Homo sapiens: one gene and its partner. The protein of the gene in region 1 interacts with the protein of each later gene in a pairwise test. Each region holds a gene or a part of one and is shown on either strand. Other genes may lie near its edges. The genes, in order: ALDH16A1 and DERA.

Region 1 (8,143 bases):
CACAGCTCTTCTCTGGCTCCCCAGTGCTCCCAAGTGAAGGTCTGAGCCCCACAAGCCTGGCGTTGGAGACCCTATGTGGTCTGCCCCTCCCACCTCTGGAGAAGACCTCATTCTTCTAGCAACCTCGGCCCACTGAATTTCTTTCAGTCACTCTCCATTACTGGCTGATCCAATCCAATCATTCTCTCCCAGCTCTGGGCCGCTCTACCTAGAACCTTCTTCTGTCTGCCTGCTGAACTCCTCCTGTTCCTTCAAATCTTATCCCACACCCCCTCCTCCAGGAAGCCTTCCCTGACCCCTTCATGTGGGTGACGAGCCCTCTCAAGGCTGTGCTGGGTGCCCCCCTCCAAAGCAGCGTGAATCACACCCTATTGATACTGCATCCATCTCCTTGAGCCCCACCCATGACAGCGAGTTTCTGGAACGTGGAATGTGCATTTCATAGGTCCTTATTCCCCGGGGCACTGCCTAGAGCTTGGTCCCAGAAAGCTTCAAGAGACATATTGAAAAAAGGATATAGAGGCAGAAACAGGGACAGAGGTGAGGCAAGACAGAGATGGAGAAAGGGAGAAGGGCAGAGGAGAAAACAGGATGAAAGAGAGAGCCGCAGGCTGGGTGCAGTGGCTCACACCTGTAATCCCAGCACTTTCGGAGGCTGAGGCGGTGGATCACCTGAGGTCAGGAGTCTGAGACCAGCCAGGCCAACGTGGCGAAACCCCGTCTCTATTAAAAATACAAAAATTAGCTGGGTGTGGTGGAGCACACCTGTAATCCCAGCTGCTTGGGAGCCTGAGACAGGAGAATCGTCTGAACCTGGGCAACAAGAGCGAAACTCCATCACAAGAAAAAAAAAAAGAAAGAAAGAAAAAAGAAGGAGACAGCAGGCTCAGGACTAAAGCCAGGAGATCCGCTAATGCACGAAGAGCACTCTGCCCAGGCCTCCCGGCCCTGGAGTGGGGCATGGAAAAGTGCCAGCCTGGCCAGGTGGCAGAACCAGGACTGCCCGGGTGTGGGATGTCCAGGGCACTAGAGATCTACCATAGGGAAAAGAATCAGATCGAGGGGCCAGATCTCCAGGAGCTGAGGGAGGAGGGTCCTGGGCCCAGGATTCTTGGGTTCTAGGGAAGAAGGGGCCTAGCGGGCCAGACTCCTGGGTCCTCTGAGGGCACTGACTTGCATCCAGTTCTGCATGAGGCTCTCCCAGACTCATGGGGATGCGAAACCCAGCTTGGTCCTCCTCTAGCATCTGAAGCAGCTCCTCCTCGGTCACGTCGGCGGGAGGAGGGATAGAGGGGGAGTGGCAGATGTTGATGAAAACCTTCCCTTCCGAGGAGTTGGTCTTTATGCAGAAACCTGGTGGGAGTGGGTTAGTCATGACAATCCTTTTCTGCACAAGTCCCAGTCCCCATCCATTGTCTCCAGGCTCTGTCTCTTTTCCTTTTGCCCTGTCCCCCTTTTTTGTTCCACTCCCCACCCGAGATCCCTCACTTCTCTTTTTTTTTTTTTTTTTTGAGACAGACTCTCACTCTGTCACCCAGGCTGGAGTGCAGTGGCGTGATCTCGGCTCACTGCAACCTCCACCTCCCAGGTTCAAGCAATTCTCATGCCTCAGCCTCCCAAGTAGCTGGGATTATAGGCGCCCACCACCACGCCCGGCTAATTTTCGTATTTTTAGTAGAGATGGAGTTTCACCATGTTGGCCAGGCTGATCTCAAACTCCTGCCCTCAGGTGATCCTCCCGCCTTGGCCTCCCAAAGTGCTGGGCTCCCGGCCCCCTCTCTTCTTTGTTTTCTCCTTGTTTGTTTTTTGAGACAGGGTCTCACTGTGTCACCCAGGTTGGAGTGCAGTGGTACGATCTTGGCTCACCGCAGTCTCTTCCACCTGGCTCAAGTGAGCCTCCCACCTCAGCCTCGTGAGTAGCTATGACTACAGGCACGCACCCACCAAGTCCAGCTAATTTTGTTTATTTTTAGTAGAGATGAGGTCTCACTATGTTGCACAGGCTGGTCTTGAATGCCTGGCCTCAAGCAATCCTTCCACCTCGGCCTCCCAAAGTGATGGAATTACAGATGTGAGCCACTGTGCCCAGCCTCTCTTCCTATCTTTGTTGTTGTTGTTTGTTTCGTTTTGTTTTTGAGACAGAGTCTCGCTCTGTCACCCAGGCTGCAGTACAGTGGTGCGATCTCCACCCACTGCAACTTCTGCCTCTTGGGTTCCAGCAATTCTCCTGTCTCAGCCTCCCCAGTAGCTGGGACTACAGGCACGTGCCACCGCACCTGGCCTCTTCCTATCTCTGATTCTCTGGCCCCCTACCTACTCCTACTCTGTCCTCCAACTCCTTTCTGTCCTAGGATGATCTCTGTGGGTGTCTGCTCACCCCACCCCCACCCTAGGCCTTTATTTTCGTGTCTCTTTCCTTCCTCCTCTCTCTGTCCTCTCCCTGGGTCTCCTGTCCCTCTCTCTCCGGTGTCCTTTCTCACCAGGCTGAGGCTGGATTTGTGTCGATTCTGGTCTGGTTGTCTGGGCTTGCTGGAGCTCCTTCGAGGCCTGTATAAAGGAAAACTACCTCCAGGCTCGGAGTCTGTGCCATCAGACCCCTCATTTGTTCCTCAAATGGAGCAATTCTTATGCATGAGAGCTGTGGATAACGCGAGAAATTAGACGGTTTAGGTCCCCTTTCTCCTTTGAGAACTAGAAGAACAACCCCAACCCCATTCCCATTTCTTTTTTTTTTTTTTTTTTTTTGGAGACGGAGTCTCACTCTGTCGCCCAGGCTGGAGTGCAGTGCCGAGGTCTCGGCTCATTGCAAGCTTCGCCTCCCGGGTTCACGCCATTCTCCTGCCTCAGCCTCTCCAGTAGCTAGGACTACAGGTGCCCGCCACCACGCCCGGCTAATTTTTTGTATTTTTAGTAGAGACGGGGTTTCACCGTGTTAGCCAGGATGGTCTCGATCTCCTGACCTCGTGATCCGCCCGCCTCGGCCTCCCAAAGTGGTGGGATTACAGGTGTGAGCCACCGCGCCCGGCCCCCCACTCCCATTTCTTAGCAAACTTGAAGCCCATTAACCTCAATTCCCCGAGGCCTGGTTCCCGCCTTAGTGCATTCTGGGAACTGCAGTCCCATCTTTGAGCACCCCGCCAAAATCCCCGAATACTCAAGGATCCAGGGGTCCGGTCACTGCACCTGCAGCAGCAGCTCCTCAAATCGCGCCGAATCAGCACCGATCGCCTCCGCCTCGCTTAGCCCCATTCCCAGCAGCTTCGGGTTCGCCATGGCCCTGGGAAAGAGATCTAGGCGTCCTCGAGACCCTCAACGTGGGAAACTTTGCCCAGGATCCGAACCCCAGTGCCTGCTCTGGCCCTCAATCGACTCCGGATACCTACTATCCTGTTCAAAAACCTAAGACTGGCCTAAGACTACATTTCCATTCAAGACCGAACACCATCGTCAAATCCGTGGGGAATATGTGTCTCTAGACGCACTACCCTCCGTCCTACGTGCCGAACTGTAAACGAAGCCACACTTCCGGTCTATCGGTAAACACAGGACTGGAGTATGCCACACTTCCGAGTACCCCAGTGTTCATTCACAAGCTGGTATCGCGTTATCGACAAGCCACGCCCCTCGCATCAATCAAAAATAAACCCCAAGGCGGATCCCTGAGTGCCACACTTCCTGTATCTATGAAAGCCACACTTCCGGCTGGGCGCTGTGGCTCCTACCGGTAGTCCCAGCACTTTGGAAGGCCAGGGCAAGAGGATCGCTTGAGGCCAGGAGTTCGAAACCAGCTTGGGCAATACAATGAGATAACGTCCCACACCCCATCTCTTAAAAAAAAAAAAAAAGCGCCAGACTTCCACTCTTTCCACAACCAAAACTGGCCCCCTTACTTTGCAGTGAAGGTTGCATTTTCCAAACCTTAATCTCAATGTCCATCCTAAAAGGTACCCTTTTTATCTTTGAATTATCACTTCCTGCCAGCTCTAGATCCTAATACGTCCAGATCTAGACCCGCCAGGTCTAGATCTAGATCTAGACCTCTAGTCAATATAATTAGAAAAGCTGCACTTTGAGGCTGGGAGGCCGAGGTAGGAGGATCGCTTGAGCCCAGGAGTTCGAGACCAGCCTGAGCAACATAGCAAGATCCTGTCTCTACCAAAAAAAAAAAAAAAAAAAAAATTAGCCAGGCTTGATGGCACCTGCCTGTAGTCCCAGCTACTGTGCAGGCTGACGCAGGAGTAATGTTTAAACCTGAAAAGTCGAGGCGACAGTAAGCCGTGATCGGACCACTGCACTCCAGCCCTGGGCGACAGAGGGAGACCCTGTCTCAAGAAAATAAAAGGTAAAACAAAACCTGCACTTCCTGCTACTATAAAACAAGGCACTGGGAAGACGCATCAATAGGACGACCCTTTTTTTTTATTACTATTTTTTTTTTAGACACAGTCTCCCTTTGCCACCCAGGCTGGAGTGCAGTGGCGCGATCTCGGCTCACTGAAACGTACACCTTCTGGGTTCAAGTGATTCTCCCGCCTCAGCCTCTTGAGTAGCTGAGATTACAGGCGCGCACCACCACAGCTCGGCTAATGCTTGTATTTTTAGTAGAGACGGGGTTTCACCAAATTGGTCAGGCTGGTCTCGAACTCCCGACCTTAGGTGATCCGCCCGCCTCGGCCTCCCGAAGTGCTGGGATTACAGCCAAGAGCCATCGTGCCCGGCCACGCCGATCCTCATAAATCCGGAGCCCTCCTAACTATTCGCAAAGTACCCACATCGCCGTCTCCCCTTCCTCCCCGTTTTAAGCAGTGCGCATGCTCCTAAATACGCTTCCCCGTGGGGGACGTAGGCGGGGCCATCGGGTCCTAAGGAAAAAGTGTGGGCGTGGCTGCTCTCTGTATCTTGTAGCCCCACCCCATTCCCATTAGCCCCGCCCCTTTGGGCTGGAACCGGAGGTGTCGCTCTTCGGACCTCAAGGTTCCCCTTAACACAGAGCGCCCCGCAGTCTTCGCGGAAAGCGTTCGGGGTAGGCGATGGCTGCGACGCGTGCAGGGCCCCGCGCCCGCGAGATCTTCACCTCGCTGGAGTACGGACCGGTGCCGGAGAGCCACGCATGCGCACTGGTGAGAGTCTGCCCGGCCGGCGCTGCTCGCTGCGTTCCCCAGGCCTGGGCGCCCGGTTTTTCGCGGGGAGTCCCGTCATCCACTGCGGTAGCTCAGCCGCTCCGCCTCTCTTAGTCCCCGTGATTCCCGCCGCCCAATAGGATCGCGCCCTGTAGGACGCTCCCTTGAGCCTTGGCGGTGGCAGCCTTTTAGTCTGTTCCGGTCTTCCCCACTGGTTCTCTTGCCCCTTGATCCTGAACTCCTCGTAGTGTTTCCGCGGTTTTCCTGAACTCCTCTAGACGCTCTCGTGATTCCTCAGGGTCCCCTCAGAACCTGACGCCACCCACCAGACCCCTTAGGATTCCTGTGAGGCTCCAGTGACCCACAACCCCCATTGTCTTTCCACGACTCTTCAAAACATCCTATGGCTTCCATGGGCCTCCAGAGCACCCCAGACCTCCTGAGGGACTCCCTTCATCCCTTTGATTACCCAGAGACCTTCAGAACTTCCATGGAGCCCCCGTGATCCCATAGGACCCCTCAATACTCGTGGGGTTCATGTGACCTCATCGGAACTCTCAGGAGCCTAGAATACATCAGGACTTCCGGTTTGGGTTGGGTTTTTTTTTTGTTTTTTTTTTTGAGCCAGGGTCTCACTCTGTCGCCCAAACTGAAGTGCACTGGCGCTATCACACCACTGCAGCCTCAACCTCCTGGGCTCAAGCCATCCTCTCACCTCAGCCCCCCAAGTAACTGGGACCAGAGACGCGCGCCACCACTCTCAGCTAATATTTGTACTTTTTCTAGAGACAAGGTTTCAGCATGTTGGCCAGGCTGGTCTCGAACTCCTGGCCTCAAGTGATCCACCCACCTCGACTTCCCAAAGTGCTGGGATTACAGGCGTGAGCTACTGCACCCAGCCACATCAGGACTTCCTGTAATTACTTATGGCCCCTCACAATACCCTCACGGGGCTCCTATGATCTCTCTAGCTCTCAGAATGTCCCATAGGGTTCCCATGATTGTTCAGGAACCCCTGAAGTCCTCGTGAGGGTCCCATGATCCCCTGGGGGTCCTCAGAACCTCCCTAGGACTCCCATGACCCCTCAGAGGCCCCCAGAACCCTCGTGGGGTTCCTGCAAATGAGTAGGGCACCTCAAACTTTCTGTCGTTTCCCCAGGCACTCTCAGAATTCCTTCACGGGGCTCTCATGATCCCCCAGGGTCCCCCAGCACCCAGGCGAAAGGAGCTTAGGCTTCTTTGAGGGGGAGGGCAGGAGGCCAGAGCAATGATCCAAGTGGAAGGAACTGGATCAGAACCCTGGCACAGCCTAGAACTTGGGGAGGCCAAGACGGGCAGATCGCCTGAGCTCAGGAATTCGAGACCAGCCTGGGCAACATAGTGAAACCTCGTCTCTACTAAAATACAAAACATTGGGCCAGGCGTGGTGGCTCAGACTTGTAATCCCAGCACTTTGGGAGTCCTAGGTGGGCGGATCACCTGAGGTCAGGAGTTCGAGACCAGCCTGGCCAACATGGTGAAACCCCATCTCTACTAAAATACAAAAATTACCTGAGCGTGGTGGTGTTTGCCTGTAATCCTAGCTACTTGGGAGGCTGAGGTGGGAGAATTGCTTGAATCCAGGAGGCAGAGGTTGCAGTAAGCTGAGATTGCACCACTGCACTCCAGCCTGGGCAACGGAGCAAGACGCTGTCTCCAAAAAAAATACAAAAATGGCTGGGCGCAGTGGTTCACACCTGTAATCCCAGCGCTTTGGGAGGCCGAGGCGGGCGGATCATGAGGTCAGGAGATCGAGACCAGCCTGGCCAAGATGGTGAAACCCATCTCTACTAAAAATACAAAAAATTAGCTGGGCGTGGTGGCAGGCACCTGTAATCCCAGCTACTTGGGAGGCTGGGGCAGGAGAATCGCTTGAACCCAGGAGGTGGAGATTGCAGTGAGCCGAGACCACGCCACTGCACTCCAGCCTGGGCAACAAGAGCAAAACTCCATCTCAAAAAAAAAAAAAAAAAAAAAAGGAAACAGAAAACAAAAGATTAGCCGAGGATGGCAGCACACACCTGTAGTCCCAGCTACCCGGGAGGCTGAGGTGGGAGGATCACCTGAGCCTGGGAGGTGCAGTGATCATACCACTGAACTCCAGCCTGGGTGACAGAATAAGACCCTGTCCCCCCTGAAAAAAAAAGAAGTTGAGGCCAGGCAAGTGGCTCACACCTGTAATCCCAGCAGTTTGGGAGACCGAGGCAGGAGGATCACTCGCACCTAGGAGTTTGAGACCAGCCTGGGCAACATGGTGAGGCCCTATCTCTATTAATATAAAAATAAAACATAAAAAGTGAAGTTGAGACTTGGACTTGAGTCCTTGCATTTCAGACCCGTGGTCTTGCCTACACCAGCAAAGTTCTCAACCGTACAGTCTCTGGGCCAGACTCAACCAACAAACATGTTTTCTTTGGCGTGAACTTTATTTTTTTTTTATGTGAAATGCTGGACAATTGATTCCATGTAAACATCCGGGAGGTCCTCTTGAAAATAAAATTCCAAAATGTGTCAACATTTGGCTCAACTTCCCTGACAAAAGTCATCTGGGACCAATAGCTCCTGTCTTTTCCATGAATCGTTAAGCTCCTCTTCTCATCCAGGCCCTCTTCTCAGGCCTCCTGGAACCCTCTGGACATTCTTTTGGAATTTTGTTTTTCTTTTGGGGGGAAGCTTTCCAACTTGCACAGAATAATTAGCATTTATTTTGAACTCCTGTTTACCCATCACTGTGCCTCAACCATCATCAACATTTATCCCAGCGCTGTTTCCTTCTGTATTTTCTTTGGAGTAATTTAAACAAATCCTGGATGTCACAGTATTTTCCTATAAATATTTGAATCCTTTCTTCTAACAGATAAGGGCTCATTTTGTTACAAAACTACCATGGTCTGTTACCACACTTAACATTAAGTCATTCTTTTTGTTTTTTGTTTGTTTGTTTGAGACAGGATCTTACTCTGTCGCCCAGGCTAGCATTCAGT
Region 2 (15,980 bases), on another chromosome or scaffold:
GCCCCAGGTAGGTGTTGTATAATGCTGGTGCCTGGACCACAGACAGCTGCCTTACTGGTTTACCTACTGTAGTCTGCCTTTCATTCTACCTGTCCTTCACACTGCTGCCTGGCAGTTCCTCTTAATTCAAGAGTCAAGTATTATTATGTGTTATATTTCCTGCTCAATAAGATAATGCATGCTCTTTGTAAGAATGTTTAAATATTAGGGGAATATATAACGTGAGAAAGTAGGAATATAATCTTACCTCTGAAGAAAAACACTTCTATCAATTTGGCATATAGTTTATTTTCTTTGCACATACACCAACAGATACATGTTTTGTGTTCTTTTTGTTTTTATTAACAGTTTTATTTTAAAAAGCACACTGCTGTGCATATTTCTTATTTTTACTGAGTAATGTATCATAATCAGTTTTCTACAACAGTACTTACTGATGTACCTCGTTCTTTTTTTTTTTCTTTTTTTTGAGACGGAGTCTTGCTCTGTTGCCCAGGCTAGAGTACAGTGGCGCAATCTCAGCTCACTGCAACCTCCGCCTCCCAGGTTCAAGCGATTCTTCTGCCTCAGTCCCCTGACTACTGAGACTACAGGCTTGCACCACCATGCCCAGCTAATTTTTGTGCTTTTAGTGGAGACAGGGTTTCACCATATTGACCAGGCTGGTCTCGAACTCCTGACCTCGTGATCCGCCTGCCTCGGCCTCCCAAAGTGCTGGGATTACAGGCGTGAGCCACTGCACCTGGCCTGTACTTCATTCTTTTTAATGGCTGAATTGTATTCTGTTTTTTGGATTTGCTATATATTATTGAACTGGACATGGATCTTGGTGTCATTTCCAACAGTGCTGCCACACATACGTTTTCATGTTTGCATTTGCAAACTTATGTACGTATTTCCATGGGACATATTCTGTGTACTGATTACTTTTTTAAAATACTCCTTTAATTCTGTTACAGCCCTGTTTGGAGATCTTCTCTGACTTCTGGTCACCTGTATCATAAAGTCTAGACTAGAGCCTAGAGCCAATAGAAACATAATGTGAGACATGGAGTCATTTTAAATTTTCAAGTGTACACATTATAAAAAAAATAAAAAGGAACAGGTGAAAATATTTTAATAGCATTTTACTTAGCCAAGTGTACCCCAAATATTATAATTTCATTGTGAAATCAATGTTAAAACGTAATTAGATATTTTACACCCTTCTTTTTGTACTGAATCTTTGAAATCTATGTATTTTACACTTAAAGCACATTTCGATTTGGACTATCCACATTTCAAGGGCTCAGGTAGGCACAAGTGTGTGGCTCCTGATTGGACAGCGCATGTCTACACTCAGCCTGGTGCTTACAGCACTTTACAAGTAAGCCATAGTCAGTCAAACAAGCCACATTCAGTCACATTTAGCCAACCTGCTTTTGCTTCTGACAGCCCCACAAACTTGCAGTGCTTCCGGTTTATTTTTCCTGCATCCTGCCCAGTTTTTTGGGCAGGGTTTCTCAGCTTTGGCACTGTTGAAGTTTGGGACCACATAATTCTAAGTTGTGGGTGCCTTGTAGGATACTGAGCAGTATCCTTGGCCTCTACCCACTAGATACAAGTGGCACCTTCTCCTCTAGAATCCCCCTACCCCATCTGTGGTGACCAAAAATGTCTCTAGACTGAGAAACAATGCTTTACGGTGAATCAGAAATCTCCACTTATCCATTAGGGTTGTTTTAGCCAACTGGATAAGCCTACTGTGACCTACCCTTCCTCTGAACTTGACTTTTTATCCAGCCAGTGTGGTAAGTTTTTATTTTTGTGTATGAGGAACAAAGTTAAAATCAAAATAGAAAAAGCGCCTCCTTTTGTAGGGTTATCATTTGGTGTTACATGCTTTAGGAATACTGTGAAAAATACAGGAACTTCTGCAGAAACACAAATGAAAATGATGGAAAGTCTAGAAAGTAAAGTTGCAGGGAAAATGACCTCCATCTCCACTACGACTTGAACCAGAAATAATAATAATAATAAATTGTGAGAAGAGTATTTGAGGACAAATTTATAACCAACACAAGGGCCTAAAAACCACCAAAATGACATATTAAGGTAAATAGTGGGACTTTTTTCATTGGAGAATTTTAAGAGAAGATATCATTGCCTTCCAATTATGGTTTCATATCTGTTCTCCCCAAAGGCATGTGTACTTAAAACCCCTCTTGGCCCCATAAGAAGATTCTTTGGTCCTGATGAGATTATGTGCATTAGAATCACTTCTCCTGGAAAGGAGACGCTAAAGGGTACTTGAATAAAATATTAAAAATTATGGAGGACATAACAAAGGCCAATCAGTCCTTTCTTTTCCCCAGACCCCATAATAGGAGAACATGGGTTATTTGATGAAATTAAAGAGTAGCAAATTAAGTGCTAATAAAACGAGATAGTCACTTACATAATTCATTGCCATGGGAGGTCACAGAGGCAAATTTTGTGGCTACATTAAATATGGGGCTGGATAATTTTATGACCGCTAATGATATTTTTAGCAGTCAAGGCTGATACTGTGAGAGAAGAAATCCTATTACATTCTCCAGTAGATGGTTTGCAGGGACCTCTGGCAAGAGGTTTCTGAGAAGTGCAAGAGCAGACCTTGTGAGTTCTAACCTTTGGTGTACTCAAAATTGGTTTTTAAGGGGAAAGTTCCCAGGCATCCCATTCATACCTCAGTCCCATATTTTCTTGTAGAGATCCAAAAGCCCTTTCTAGTCTGAAGCAGTGGAGAAAGACATTGCCCAGAATTAAATCCTTTCTGGTCTTTGGGAACCACTCGACTTATTTATCGTATGCCACCCGTGCGTCAGGTCCTTCGCTTGGAGTTTTAAAAAATCTTTTGGGGACATAAACATTTGGACACATCAGTGGCATTCTGAGTGAAGGGGATGTACTAAAGGTGGAATGCAGAGTTTCATGGAAGCACGAAGAAGCAAAGGGATGTCTCAACCTGTGAGGTTCAGGGAAGGCTCCCAGAGAAGGTGACATTTGAATCGACTCTTAAAGGATGAGCAGCAGTTCACTGTTCGCAAAGCAGGGAGGGCATTCTTGGTAGAAGGAGCTTGCAGCATGCACAGATCCAGAGACAGCCTGGCATAATGTGTCAGGGAACTGCCAGTAGTTTAGGAAGGCTGCACCACAGAGGCAGAGGAGCAGTGAGGGAGGAGCTGGGGCTTGAGAATGAGGAAGGAGCCAGATGGTGAAGGAAGAGGCTTGTGTTTGCCTGAGACCCCTCTCCAACAGTGGTGCCAGTGTTTCCAGTGGCGACAGTAGTGGTAGTGGTGCGTTGGGAGTAGAGAATGGGAAGGACTTCAGGGGTGTCCTGTGACCGATAAAGGACAGCCTGTCAAAGCCTTGCCCCACTGAGTAATAGGCCTACCTCTTTTTGATCACGGTCAACAATTAGTTGGCAGTGAGTCTTGGAGTTCACATACTCTTCACTCATTTTTCTATATCTGCTTGAAACAGTCTTTACCATGAACCAAATCAGCATTATCAATCATCTGAGGAGAAAAAAAAAAAGCCTCTTAGGGCTGGGTGCAGTGGCTCATGCCTGTAATCCCAGCACTTTAGGAGGGCGAGGCAGGTAGATCACTTGAGGTCGGGAGTTCGATACCAGCCTGGCCAACATGGTGAAACCCTGTCTCTATTAAAAATACAAAAATTAGCCTGGCGTGGTGGCGCACGCCTGTAGCCCTGGCTCCTTGGGAGGCTGAGGCATGAGTTCGTTTGAACCCGGGAGGTGGAGGTTGCAGTGAGCCAAGATCGTACCACTGCATTCCAGCCTGGGCGACAGAGAGACTGTGTCTGAAAAAAAAAAAAAAGAGGCTCCCCTGCGTTTGAGTAGGGGGTGTTTCTTACAGGTCTTAGATAAATTGGGACGAAGTCTAGAGTGTCTGGTCTGATTTTCTCGGGCTCTGCTAGAACAAAAACAGCCCTTGAGTGGGAAAGCAGAGGCAGATTTCATCGGCCTGACCCCAGACTCCCATTTTCTCTGTGAAGTTGGCTCAGCAAACAAGCAAGAAAACATACAATATCTTTGAGGAGCAGGAGCAGATGGATTGAAATGTTAAAAATCTGGTTTGTTAAATGATTTCAGCTAACAAAATAATTAGAGAGAAAAAGAAGCACCCAAACTCTCTTCCTTCTTCAGTGAAATTTAAATAAGATCATTATTAATCACTCAGAGTCCACCTTGCAATCTCTATACCTTTAATACTGATACTTTTAAGAAGAATGAAATGAAAATGAGTGAGAGAAAGAATGTCATCTGTAAACATTAGTTTAGATGCAAATACTTCAATTTGTATTGTTACATGATACAGTATGTGATTAGCAGTTTTCCTCATTGCATTATAAAGAGTTTTGTAATTAGTGCATTTTTTCTAATGGATAACTTTTTTTCCACAGTACTCTTTTAAGGCTCTTTTAAAAACATGGAATTGCTGGAGAGATATAGAAGTGAGGTTAGTTATAGAAGGTAAATAATGTTCATGTCCGATTTACCGTGAGGCCACCTATGTTTATAGGATATTGGTGGATGAAGTTGAAATATGTGTACCAAACACTGTTGGATGTTAGACACCCAAAGATGAGTAACATCATGGCTGACAATGTACTAAGTACAACGAATGGTTTCACCAGGAATCCTTGATGAATTGATTACAAGTTCTGTGGTAGAGATCTATCCAAATGTTAGCTCTGTCTGGGGAGCTGACAGTGTTTTCACAACAGCTAATATTTAGACTAGGTCTGAAGGTAGAAATTACAGTTAACTGGAAGAGAAGAGAGAGTAGATCAAGGTAGGAGAGAGCATTTCAGAACAAAAGCAACAGAGATAGCTCCTGAAACTTTAAATAATTTGTTTTTTCTTTTTTTCTAACTTCTGTTATATCAGTCAATGTTGTTATTTCTAATACATTTTGAAAAATTTTTCTTTGAAGAAAGAATGGGCTGTATCCTGTCAGCATGCAGTAGGTATTAATCTTGCCAGTAAGCGGGTAGTGAGCACAGATTCTGTAAGCCCCACCATTAGTTCACTTAAGATTTGTTAATCATTTGCTCTCCTGGGCTGGACACTCACCAGTAAGTCTTTGCTCTCAGAGGTGAGGTACGTGGCATGGGTAACACACATTTCCCACGTCGTTAGACATGTCTGTGTGATGAATCAATACAGGTTCTTCCAGTTCCAAATGTATAGGCTGGTACAGAAGCAATTGTGGTTTTTGCCTTTGAAAGTAATGGAGTGATTTTGCATGAAGTATGCCTTTTGTTGACTGGTCTTCCATCAATAAGGTTGTTTATTTATAGTTGTACAAAAAAGAAATATAAGCTTTAAAAAAAGGTTGATGTCAAATGATAAATGTATCCTTTCAAGGACCATGTAAAAATAGGTGACTATATTTAATGAAACTTTAGGTTTCAGAAAGTGTTTTTCTGTCTGTTTTAGACCTTAGCTGGATCTCCAAAATACAAGTGAATCACCCGGCAGTTCTGAGGCGTGCGGAACAAATCCAGGCTCGCAGAACCGTGAAAAAGGAGTGGCAGGTAAGGGTTCTTCTTGAGCATTCTGTGCCTGTATTTTACAATGCATGGTCTCTTCCCTCAAGGCCACAATATTGAATTTCACTCAAGATGCATCTAAACTTAAAAGATTGCAGCTGTCCATGACTTATTTTAATAATTCATATATGATGATGATGGGTTGGAGAAAGATAACACATTTATCCAAACAAGTTAAAATCTTATCACTCTTGAGTGGCAAAACCGCAAATGAATTTGAGGCATCTTTATTCATGAGTGAATTAAATGGCATATTTTCTCAACACATTTATTCAGTTTTTTAGACATGCCTTCTTTGGTTGTCTTCTGTTTTAATTTTAAAGCCCTAACATCTAAACTTGATGTGTCCACTGTTGAGGCCCTTAGGTATAAGAGTTGACCTTTCTTGACCATCATATTTACCTTACTATTACTTTCTATAAATCATTTTTCAAAATTCCAAAAATGATGTTTCGTAGAGTACTTGCGGTCAGCATTTTCTTCAGTGTATCCCAACCAAAGACGTGCTGTGTAGGATTAAAGGGAATTCAGAGTTCATTTCACAAGTGAGACAGAATACTGTGATTGAATCCTTGAGAGTGATAGTTCACGTTTTGCTCATCCTTAGAAATATTCTGGTTGAAAAGGTAAAATAAAATTCATCAGACTGAGTTGTGAAATATGAATATTGTTTTAAAAATGGAATTGGATTAAATTGAAAAAACACCAAAAAACTTGGAAACTTTTAAAAATGATAATCTCATCCCAGATCCCAGAGCGGGAGGTAAAATGTAAGGTAGAAACCTTCTTTCGGAGTTCTTCTTTGTCAGGGTGGCTCTGATGGGCTCTCCCTTTGGCTGAGATGGAGTAGTCAGAAGTGGGGAGACATGGGCTAATAGGGGTTTCAATTTGGGATATCTGTGGGAGAAAAAAAATGTTTAAGCCTACTCTTCCTCCCTTTTATTTTGGGCAGTGTTCACCTTGTTAGTGGCTCTTGAGCTGTGTTTATATCATGTATCAGGATATTCCATTGAACAGTGTAGGCATAAGATATTAACACCCATACTTGTCTAATGATTCTCTACTAACCACCTGGGTTGGAGGTTGGTTGGTTTGTTTATTTATTAAATTTACTTTGTTTTCACTTTTGTTTAAACCAGGCTGCTTGGCTCCTGAAAGCTGTTACCTTTATAGATCTTACTACACTTTCAGGTGATGATACATCTTCCAACATTCAAAGGCTCTGTTATAAAGCCAAATACCCAATCCGGGAAGATCTCTTAAAAGCTTTAAATATGCATGATAAAGGTAATGTTGTTGTGTGTGATCTATGTGGTGTTTAGTGCTTACAATACTGATTACTAAATCAAAGACGACTTAAGATACAGCTGCTAATGATAGCGGTGATAGAATCCATGATAGAAACTCTTGCTGTGTATACATAGACAGATTCTTCTCTGAAAAACAGCAGGAAGAGAATCTGAGTCTTTTTTTTTTTTTTTTTTTGAGGTCAGTTCTTTCCATCAATGGATTAAAATGCTTGGTAGAGAGTGACTTTATTTCTTTTCAGTTCTTCAGTTTTGGAAAATTTCTGTTTAGTGACACTGAAATACTCTTTCTGATTCCCTAGCCATACGTGAAAAAGCCAGTCTCATTACTTAATAATCACATCTCATACATAAAGTATTTTCTGTGAGTATATGAAATACTTTTGAAAATAAAGTGCAAATGAGAAATATAGCCTGCTTATATATTAGGTTAGATCTTTCAAAAAAAGTCATATTCACTGCCTTAGTATACATGAAAAGAAGGACTTTTCTAGAGTTGCCATAAGTTTAGAACCTTAGCATTTTGGAGATGTTGGACACCTGTAAGAATTGATTCCCTTGTTTTCTAAATAAAGAAACAAAGACCTGGAAGGCTAAGCGGCATTCCCAAGGCTACACGTCTTGTTACTTGCTGGGCTGGTTTTGGGAGCCAGGTCTCCTTCCCATGGAGTATGCTTCATGGCCCCCGAGTGCCTATCTGCTGTGAGTGCAACTGGAGACGTTGAATTGGCCCAATGCAGGTCTTTTATCCCAAATAAACACGTTTAGGTTTGTAGGTAACATACAAACCTAAACAACTCTACGGCTTTTGAAAAGTATTTATTATGTTTATTTCGTGTTGGCCATAAAAATATCACCTTATTTATTGCACTTAAAGGTAACAACTTGATGTAAGGTCTTATGATATTGCTTTGTTTTATAGTGACTATTTGAATTCTAAATTTTTTAAAATTTATGAACTTATTTCTTAAAATCAGGGCTTCCGTTTCAGATTTTATTATTTCTTGCAAAAGAGGGAATAGGATTAGTTAAATGTCATTTTTGTGGTACCACCCTCTAAATTGTACTTATATTTGTCTTCATCTGTCCTTCTTCAAACTGTCCTTTCTTCAGGTATGTCCTATGTGAATGCTCTGTAAATATGGATTTTGTTATCTACATGAAATATTTGCATTTAGTAATGATCACCAAATTTACTATTTAGACATTTTTAAAAAACAGTACTATGTTAATCTCAAAGATGAGTATATCAAACTTGTTTTTATGACTTTAACGATAAGAAAATAATCCATATTGTCAAGAACTAGAAGGGAATGTGGAAAATAAAAATCTTTTAATTTATTGCAGTATTGTGGGGGAATTATTTTTTTCTCATTTGATTTTTGCCAGTGTTGCGATATAAATAATAATTAAAAGCATGTTGTATGAGTTGAACTTCATTGAAAGTTGGCTATTCCTATTTTTTCTTGATAGGCATTACTACAGCCGCCGTTTGTGTTTATCCCGCCCGGGTGTGTGATGCTGTAAAAGCACTCAAGGCTGCAGGCTGTAATATCCCTGTGGCATCAGGTAAAATGTGTTGTGGCTTTTGTTGTTATTTTTTAAACATGTTTCCAGTTCTTCATACAATGGGGTATTATATGTAGGTTTGTACTATGATTTAAATTAGTTTATGTATTTAATTAGTTGTATTTATTCATGATTTTAGTATGTACTAATTGCTTAGTAAGTGGAAGACATTTATTCCCAACAATATAGAACTGTATTCCTATCCTTAAAGAAACTCAGTTTAGGAGGAATAGTCAGGTAAAGAAAAAAGTCATAAGGCATGACATATAGTATATATATATATACACACACACACACACACATATACATACTATATATGTATATGTATATATACATATTAACTATATATATAACTATATACATACTAACACACACATGTATGCATGTTCTGTTATACATATATATGTAAAATATAATAATAATGATATGCGGGCTGGGGACGGTGGCTCACAACTATAATCCCAGCACTTTGGGAGGCCGAAGCAGGTGGATCACTTGAGGTCAGGAGTACGAGACCAGCCTGGCCAACATGGCAAAACCCCATCTCTACTAAAAATACAAAAATTAGCCAGGCATGGTGGCAGGTGCCTGTAATCCCAGCTGCTGGGAGGCTGAGGCTGGAGAATCGTTTGAACCTGGGAGGCAGAGGTTGCAGTGAGCTGAGATCATGCCCCTGCACTCCAGCTTGGGTGATAGACCAAGACTCCGTCTCAAAAAAAAAAAAAAAAAAAAAAAAAAACAACGATATGTGCAAAATGTGTAGTTGCGGTTCTGAGCAGGGAATGATATATTCTGCAGAGGTTGGTGACACCAAAGTAAGAGAAAGCATCGTCGTGGAGATAATTGCATTGGATCTTAAAGGATGAGGAGGAGTTCACAGTGTTAATAAGGTAGGGAACCACATGTTAGACAGAGGCACTAGCACGTGTGAAGGCACAAAGCATGTTCAGGGAACTGGAAAAGGTTTGCTGTTGTTGACTACAAAGGCAGGGCTCTGAAGACAGGGCAAAGGGGGAGATACAGGAGTTGAAGCTAGAGAGGGAGATCAGGGCAGAATTGCAGAGGGGATCCATGCCATGTGGGGGCATTTGGCCTGTATTCTGATGATAGGGAAGACACTGAAAGGTTAGAGGCGTGACGTGATCAGCTTCATGGCATAGTAAGTTACCTGATGGTACTGGATAAATTAGAAAAGGAGTGAAATGGAGTTAGGGGAGACTTGTCACAGTACATGCAGGACCTGATAAAAGCCACACAAAACCTAGAAGATAAAGGAGAGAGTGCATTCAGAAGTCACTGACTTCAGATAGACACGGTAGGACTTGGTATGACAGAAAAGTCTTTAAAACATTAGTTTGGTAAATGTGTATCTGTGTGTATATGGATGGATGAATAGACAGATATAAAATTAGATTCTAGTTTTAAGAGATGTTAGAGGAATATCCTGATGCTTTAAAAAGGGAGTCTAGGCCAGGCATGGTGGCTCACATCTGTGATCCCAACACTTTGGGGGGGCTCAGGCGAGAGGATTGATTAAAGCCAGAAGTTTGAGACCAGTGTGGGCAACAAAGATCTCTACAAAAAAATAAAATAAGTAAAAATTTAAAAGGAGTTTATAAAGGTCATTAGCTTATTAGGAATATATTAAAAGAAACATGGTGCACAGTATTTATATAGAATTGATTTATGAGGATTCCTGAAGTATTTGGCAGCTACACTTGTATAGACCTTAATTTTTCATCAGCCTCAGTCAGTTCAGTTTTTGCTTTAAACAACAGAGAAACATGCTTTCCTCTAAGGTAACAGACCTAAGGAATTTTTTTAATTTTTATTTTTTGAGACAGAGTCTCGCTCTATCACCCAGGCTGGAGTGCAGTGGCGCGATCTCGGCTCACTGCAGCCTCCGCCTCCTGAGTTCAAGCAGTTCTCCTGCCTCAGCCTCCCAAGTAGCTAGGGCTACAGGTGTGCACCACCACACCAGGCTAATTTTTATACTTTTAGTAGAGATGGGGTTTCACCATGTTGACCAGGCTAGTCTCAACCTCTTCACCTCGGATGATCCGCTAGCCTTGACCTCCCAAAATGTTGGGATTACAGGCAAGAGCCACTGTGCCCAGCCCCAAGGAATTTAATATCAAGGTAACATGACAGGTTTTTTTAGAAACAGGGATGGAGAGTTAATGATGTGCATGTAAAAGATGTTACTATTTTTCAAGAGTGTAGTTGTGTTTTGTGTTTTCATTTTCCTCTTATTTACACTTGGCTCTGCTCTTCCCAACCCTGCCCCTGCCTCAATTTGGTGGACTAATTAGGTGTGTTTTCCTCCTGCATTCTCTTTTCTTTATGCTCATCTGCCAGGCTGGTTGTTTTTAACATAGGCAGTGGGAGGAACACATAGGACAGTTTGTTTACCACAGCTAAAGAGGTTCATGAGAGAATTAATCAAGATAAATCAAGGGTAAATGAGTAAATCAAGATAGCTAACTTGATCAAGATTTGGACCCAGAACTAGTGTGCTAGATAACTAGTGTTCATTAAGATAGGGCTACCACTACTATTTTATGGCTATCACTGTGAAGATAAAACATCTTTGCTGGTTACTTAATCCACCTTCATGAGCATCTCTGCAGCATCTTAATTTCAGGTCTTCCAGAAAATGATATTTGTCCTAACACTAATATGAGAGAACATTCAATTTCTTCACACTTATGCATAAGTGATGTTCTTAAGTGTCAGTGCATTGGTCTTTAAATGCTGATGTTTGGGGGTTTGGAATTCTTTGATGAACTACTACTGACCAATTGAAATTTGTTTTCCCCTCCCCCCCTTGCTTACTTTCTTTCTTCCCTCCTTCCCTCTTTCTTCATTTCCTTTCTTAACTCTATTAGTGGCCGCTGGATTTCCAGCTGGACAGACTCATTTGAAGACACGATTAGAAGAGATCAGATTGGCTGTGGAAGATGGAGCTACAGAAATCGACGTGGTAATTAACAGAAGCTTGGTGCTGACAGGCCAGTGGGAAGGTAGGTGCATGCTTTTACCTAAGAGAGTTTCACCATTCTTCCCTGGTGAATCAGATGATGAGGTAAGATGTGGTATGTTTTAGAGGTCACTGTTCTAGGTGACAAGTTAGTAGATCAAATGGTGAGTTTAGGAGAAAGCAGGCTAAGATTACCCATCCTTGTGCCCCTCATAAATCTAGGCAGTTGCCTACCTACATGAACTTTTCAGATCCTTTTGAGTGCTTAGGTGAATAGTTACTTCCATGCAATAGATTCATAACTTTTAAAACAATTTTATTTTACCAACATGCTTTTTCTTCAGAAGGGAAAAGTTACTACTATTCTATACTGTTTTGTTACTCAATACATACTTCACTCCAGGCAAGTCTTTTATGCAAAGTTTATTTGAATATATTGGAGGAAACTTCCCTTTTTTATGTTAATTTTTGCAGTCTTTAAAGGTATGGGATTATTAAGTTGACTAAGTTTATTTTTACTTCTAGCATTCTTAGACACAGCTCTGATGACTATCATGAAATTAATGATTCACTATCACGTCAGCATACACTAAGACATTGCCCTTTCCAGCAACAAGCTTTTGTTTTTTTAAACAGATATTAAAGAATCAAATAGATTTTACCTCTGTCTTAAATATATTTTGTGTACTAAAGATGAGGTCATTGGTAGCTAGAAAAGTAAAATTCTCTTTCAAAAAAGTCATTATAATAAATAGTTTAACCAAAAATTTTTAATGAAATCACAAGTTAAAGCCAGGATAGTATATTGTCTCTTTATATATCAAATAAATGGCATATTTTATACTAATTATGGAGGCTATTCCCACACTCCTTTAAAGTTTAAATAAGAGATAGGATTTTATCTCTTATTTAACCTGCTTATTGGACTTGCCTATTTCTCATGGGTATTTTCCTGTGACTGTTTCTATCCATCTGTATCTGTAAAGCCTATGTCTATTTGTGAAGCCTAATTCCATTGATTGTCAATTATGAATTGCTTTTGGTTATGAAGTAGCAAATGTTCAGTCAGTGGTTTAAACCCTCAGTATTTATTCTCTTATATAAAGTCCAGGGGTAGGTATTTCAGGGGTGTGTGGCAGCTCCACAAAGTTCTTGGAGACCCGGGCTACGTTTATATTCCAGTTCCAAAGCATGTGGCTTCTGCTGTTAATGTCAAGGGCACTTCATTGTCTGAGATGGCTTCTGAAGCTCCAGCACCTTACACTCATCTCCAAGACCATAGGAAAGAAAGGCTTTTCTCATCAAGTCTCACACAACACCTTTGTTTATTACACCTTTGCCCGTTGGCCTGAGCTGAGTGACGTGGCCATTCTTGGCTGCAAGTAAGCTGGAAAATAGAGTTTTTAGCTTGGAATATTAACTACTTTCCTGTACATTCCCATTTCCATTGCGTTCACCCCACTGCCCCCCAAGTTCCCCATTAATACTCATCAACATTTATAATTCTTGCCAGGTTTAAACTCTTGACAGTTCACAAATATCTTTTTGTATTTTGTGTTCCTTTTTTGTGATTGTTCATGTGTGTGTTTTAGCCAATTACAGTCATTCTGAAAAGGCGTATTTTAAATAGATATCTCTGTTCCTATATATTAATTTTGCTTATCTGCTTTTAGTCACGGATTTCACTAAGATTTAAGGCTAGAGTAAAATGAAAAAGTGAGTAAGCGTAGTATTTAAAACAAATCTGGCAATAAACTTTATGTGATTTAGTTGTATACAAACCTATATGTCCTTTATATCTTAAGCAATTGTAGATGTAGAAATTGGGTTTATATTATAACTTACACCTTTTATTAAGCAGTTGTGGATATAGAAATATGGTTTATATTATGCTACTAATTGGAAAATAAAATACAATAGGAGATGGGTTTTGATGTAGCTGACTGCCCCTTAATGAACTAGGAATGGTTGTTTTTAAGAACTGATAATTTCCCAATAACAGGCGTTTATGCAAAATGTAATGACAGATCTTTGTCCTGGACCATACTTTTATATTAACTCTTTTTCTAGTGTTAATAACCTCTTGACCCAAACAAATTGAAAAGGAACATTTAATACTAGAAATTTAATTCTAAATAGAAACCTGAAATGACTTAGGACTTTTTGCTGCAATATTTTGTCTTAATTTTGATTCTCAATTTGATTACATATTGTATTTTTCAGTGTCATGTTTTAATATTAGCTGTTTATTAAAATATGAGCATAAAATAATTTCTTGGAATTTGTGGATGGAAATGTCTATCAAGCAATTGCAGTTTTAAATCCAGGGCCCTCTCCCTTGTGCAGTGAGGTTTGTAGGATATTTGGTAAAGCACAATAGAAAGAACCCCATTTTATTTTTTAAGTTCTGGGGTACATGTGCAGAATGTGCAGGTTTGTTGCATAGGTAAACGTGTGCCATGGTGGTTTGCTGCACCTATCAACCCATCACCTAGGTAGGTATTAAGTGCCTCATGCATTAGCTATTTTCCCTAATGCACTACCTGCCTCCACCCTCCCCCAACAGGCCCCACTGTGTGTTGTTCCCCTCCCTGTGTCCATGTGTTCTCATTAAGAGCCCCATTTTTTAAACCTGGCCCTTCAGAGTGGTCTTAACCATTTCTCATGGATGTGAGAGTCCACAGTTTAGGGTATGAATTCGAGGAGACTGGAGTTTGGGGGTGGGGGAGGTTTGATATTCCTCTCTGGGTTCTCCTTAGTGACCATTTAAAATGTCCACTTTCCTGAAATTTCTAACTTTTCCACCCTCCTTGAAGCTCCTTCACTGTTAGCATATGAACTGCCTCCTACTTCTCAGAGAAAATAAAATCATCAGACAGGAGCTCCCTCCAGGTCCTTGCATCAGGGCTGCTTTTCTTTGCTTCTTCCTTTGCTCCTTCCTCCTAAATTCCTTCCCTCGACTGTGCTGTGGCTCTCATCTCCCCCTGCATTTTCAGAAGCCCTGCTCTATCTATTGGGCATTCTTTCTTCCGTGTCATCAGCCTTTCTGCCAGCTCATTCCCATTAAGCATTTAGACATACTCAAGCTTTTCTTAGCCATTTATGAAAGAACCTACATGCTGGCTTTCCTTTTCCTTCATCCCCAGCAACGTCCTCCTTTCTTCTCTTCCCTTCATGACTAAAATTCTGAAAAGAAGGCCCGATGCGGTGGCTCACACCTGTAATCCCAGCACTTTGGGAGGCTGAAACAGGCACTTTGGGAGGCCTCATCACCTCTTGCTCTGCTGCCGCCCTAAGCTCTGGTTCCGCAGCAACGCTCTGGAGTGAGGCGTCCTCCTCACTTGAGGTTGGGAGTTTGAGACCAGCCTGGCCAACATGGCAAAACCCTATCTCTACTAAATATACAAAGATTCGTTGGGCATGGTGGCACATGCCTGTAATCCCAGCTACTCTGGAGGCTGAGGTGAGCGAATTGCTTGAACCTGGGAGGCAGAGGTTGCAGGGAGCCAAGATTGCGCCACTGCACTGCAACCTGAGGGACAGAGTGAGATTCCCTCTCAAAAAAAAAAAAAAGAATTCTGCAAAGAGTTATATTTATTTGTTTGTCTTGAGAAGTTCAAACTAATATACTAATGACCTGTCATCTCATTATGTCCAGGGCATACTCCCCAGTTGTTTATTCAGCATTACCATGCAACATATGACACAGCAGACTGTTCCTTCCTTCTGGTAATGCTTTGTTGTTGTGGCTTTGGTGCCTACATTCCTGAGGTCTTCCTTTCTGTTTCTGATTACCCCTGCGTCTCATTTGCAAGCTCCTTCACCTCCTCTGTCATCCCTGAAGTGTCCATGTTTCTCAGAATCTGAGAACTGTGGTTCTCAGATTCTGTCCCAGTGTGACTTTTCCACAACCTTGGTGTGCTTTCCTTTGGAAACGTCATGTCCTTGCTGATTTCAGTTACATTCCTTATGGCAAAGACAACCAAACCTCCTGAGCACCAGGACCACCTGGACCCGGGGCCACCTGCTCCAGAACTCGTATTCCGTTGTATCACTACACCATGTTGCATTTTACCCATCATTTACATATAAGTAGACATTCAAATATCACTGACCCTTGACAAAATCAGAGAAATATAGCTATTTTGGAAATAAATCTATTAGGCCGGGCACAGTGGCTTATGCCTGTAATCCCAGCACTCTGGGAGGCTGAGGCAGGCAGATCACTTGAGCCCAGGAGTTCAAGACCAGTCTGGGCAACATGGCAAAACCCCATCTCTGCATAAAAAAAAAAAAATGCAAAAATTAGCCTGGTGTTGTGGTATGCGCCTGTAGTCCCAGCTACTCAAGGTTGGGCCTGAGATGGGAGGATTCCTTGAATGTGGGAGGATTCCTTGAGCCTGGGAGGCAGAGGTTGCAGTGAGCCATGATTGTGCCACTGCACTCATAAGCCACTGCGCCTGGCCTAATAGATTTATTTCTGAAATGGCCTGAGCAAGAGAGTGAGACCCTGTCTCAAACAAACA

The links.
Region 2: the proteins of ALDH16A1 (region 1) and DERA interact in binary tests that used the Homo sapiens proteins (3 or more experiments, as listed by UniProt).

The regions. Positions count from the first base shown.
Region 1 is NC_000019.10:49,448,302-49,456,444, forward strand, and holds the start of ALDH16A1 (aldehyde dehydrogenase family 16 member A1), read left to right. Parts: upstream 1-4,923; 5' UTR 4,924-5,030; coding exon 5,031-5,120; intron 5,121-6,612; exon of another isoform or gene 6,613-6,633; coding exon of another isoform or gene 6,634-6,636; intron 6,637-8,143. Other genes in the region: PIH1D1 (PIH1 domain-containing protein 1), read right to left, coding at 1,174-1,353, 2,481-2,547, 3,184-3,273.
Region 2 is NC_000012.12:15,951,451-15,967,430, forward strand, and holds part of DERA (deoxyribose-phosphate aldolase), read left to right. Parts: intron 1-5,485; coding exon 5,486-5,583; intron 5,584-6,737; coding exon 6,738-6,885; intron 6,886-8,378; coding exon 8,379-8,474; intron 8,475-11,362; coding exon 11,363-11,497; intron 11,498-15,980. UniProt on the Homo sapiens protein: Catalyzes a reversible aldol reaction between acetaldehyde and D-glyceraldehyde 3-phosphate to generate 2-deoxy-D-ribose 5-phosphate. Participates in stress granule (SG) assembly.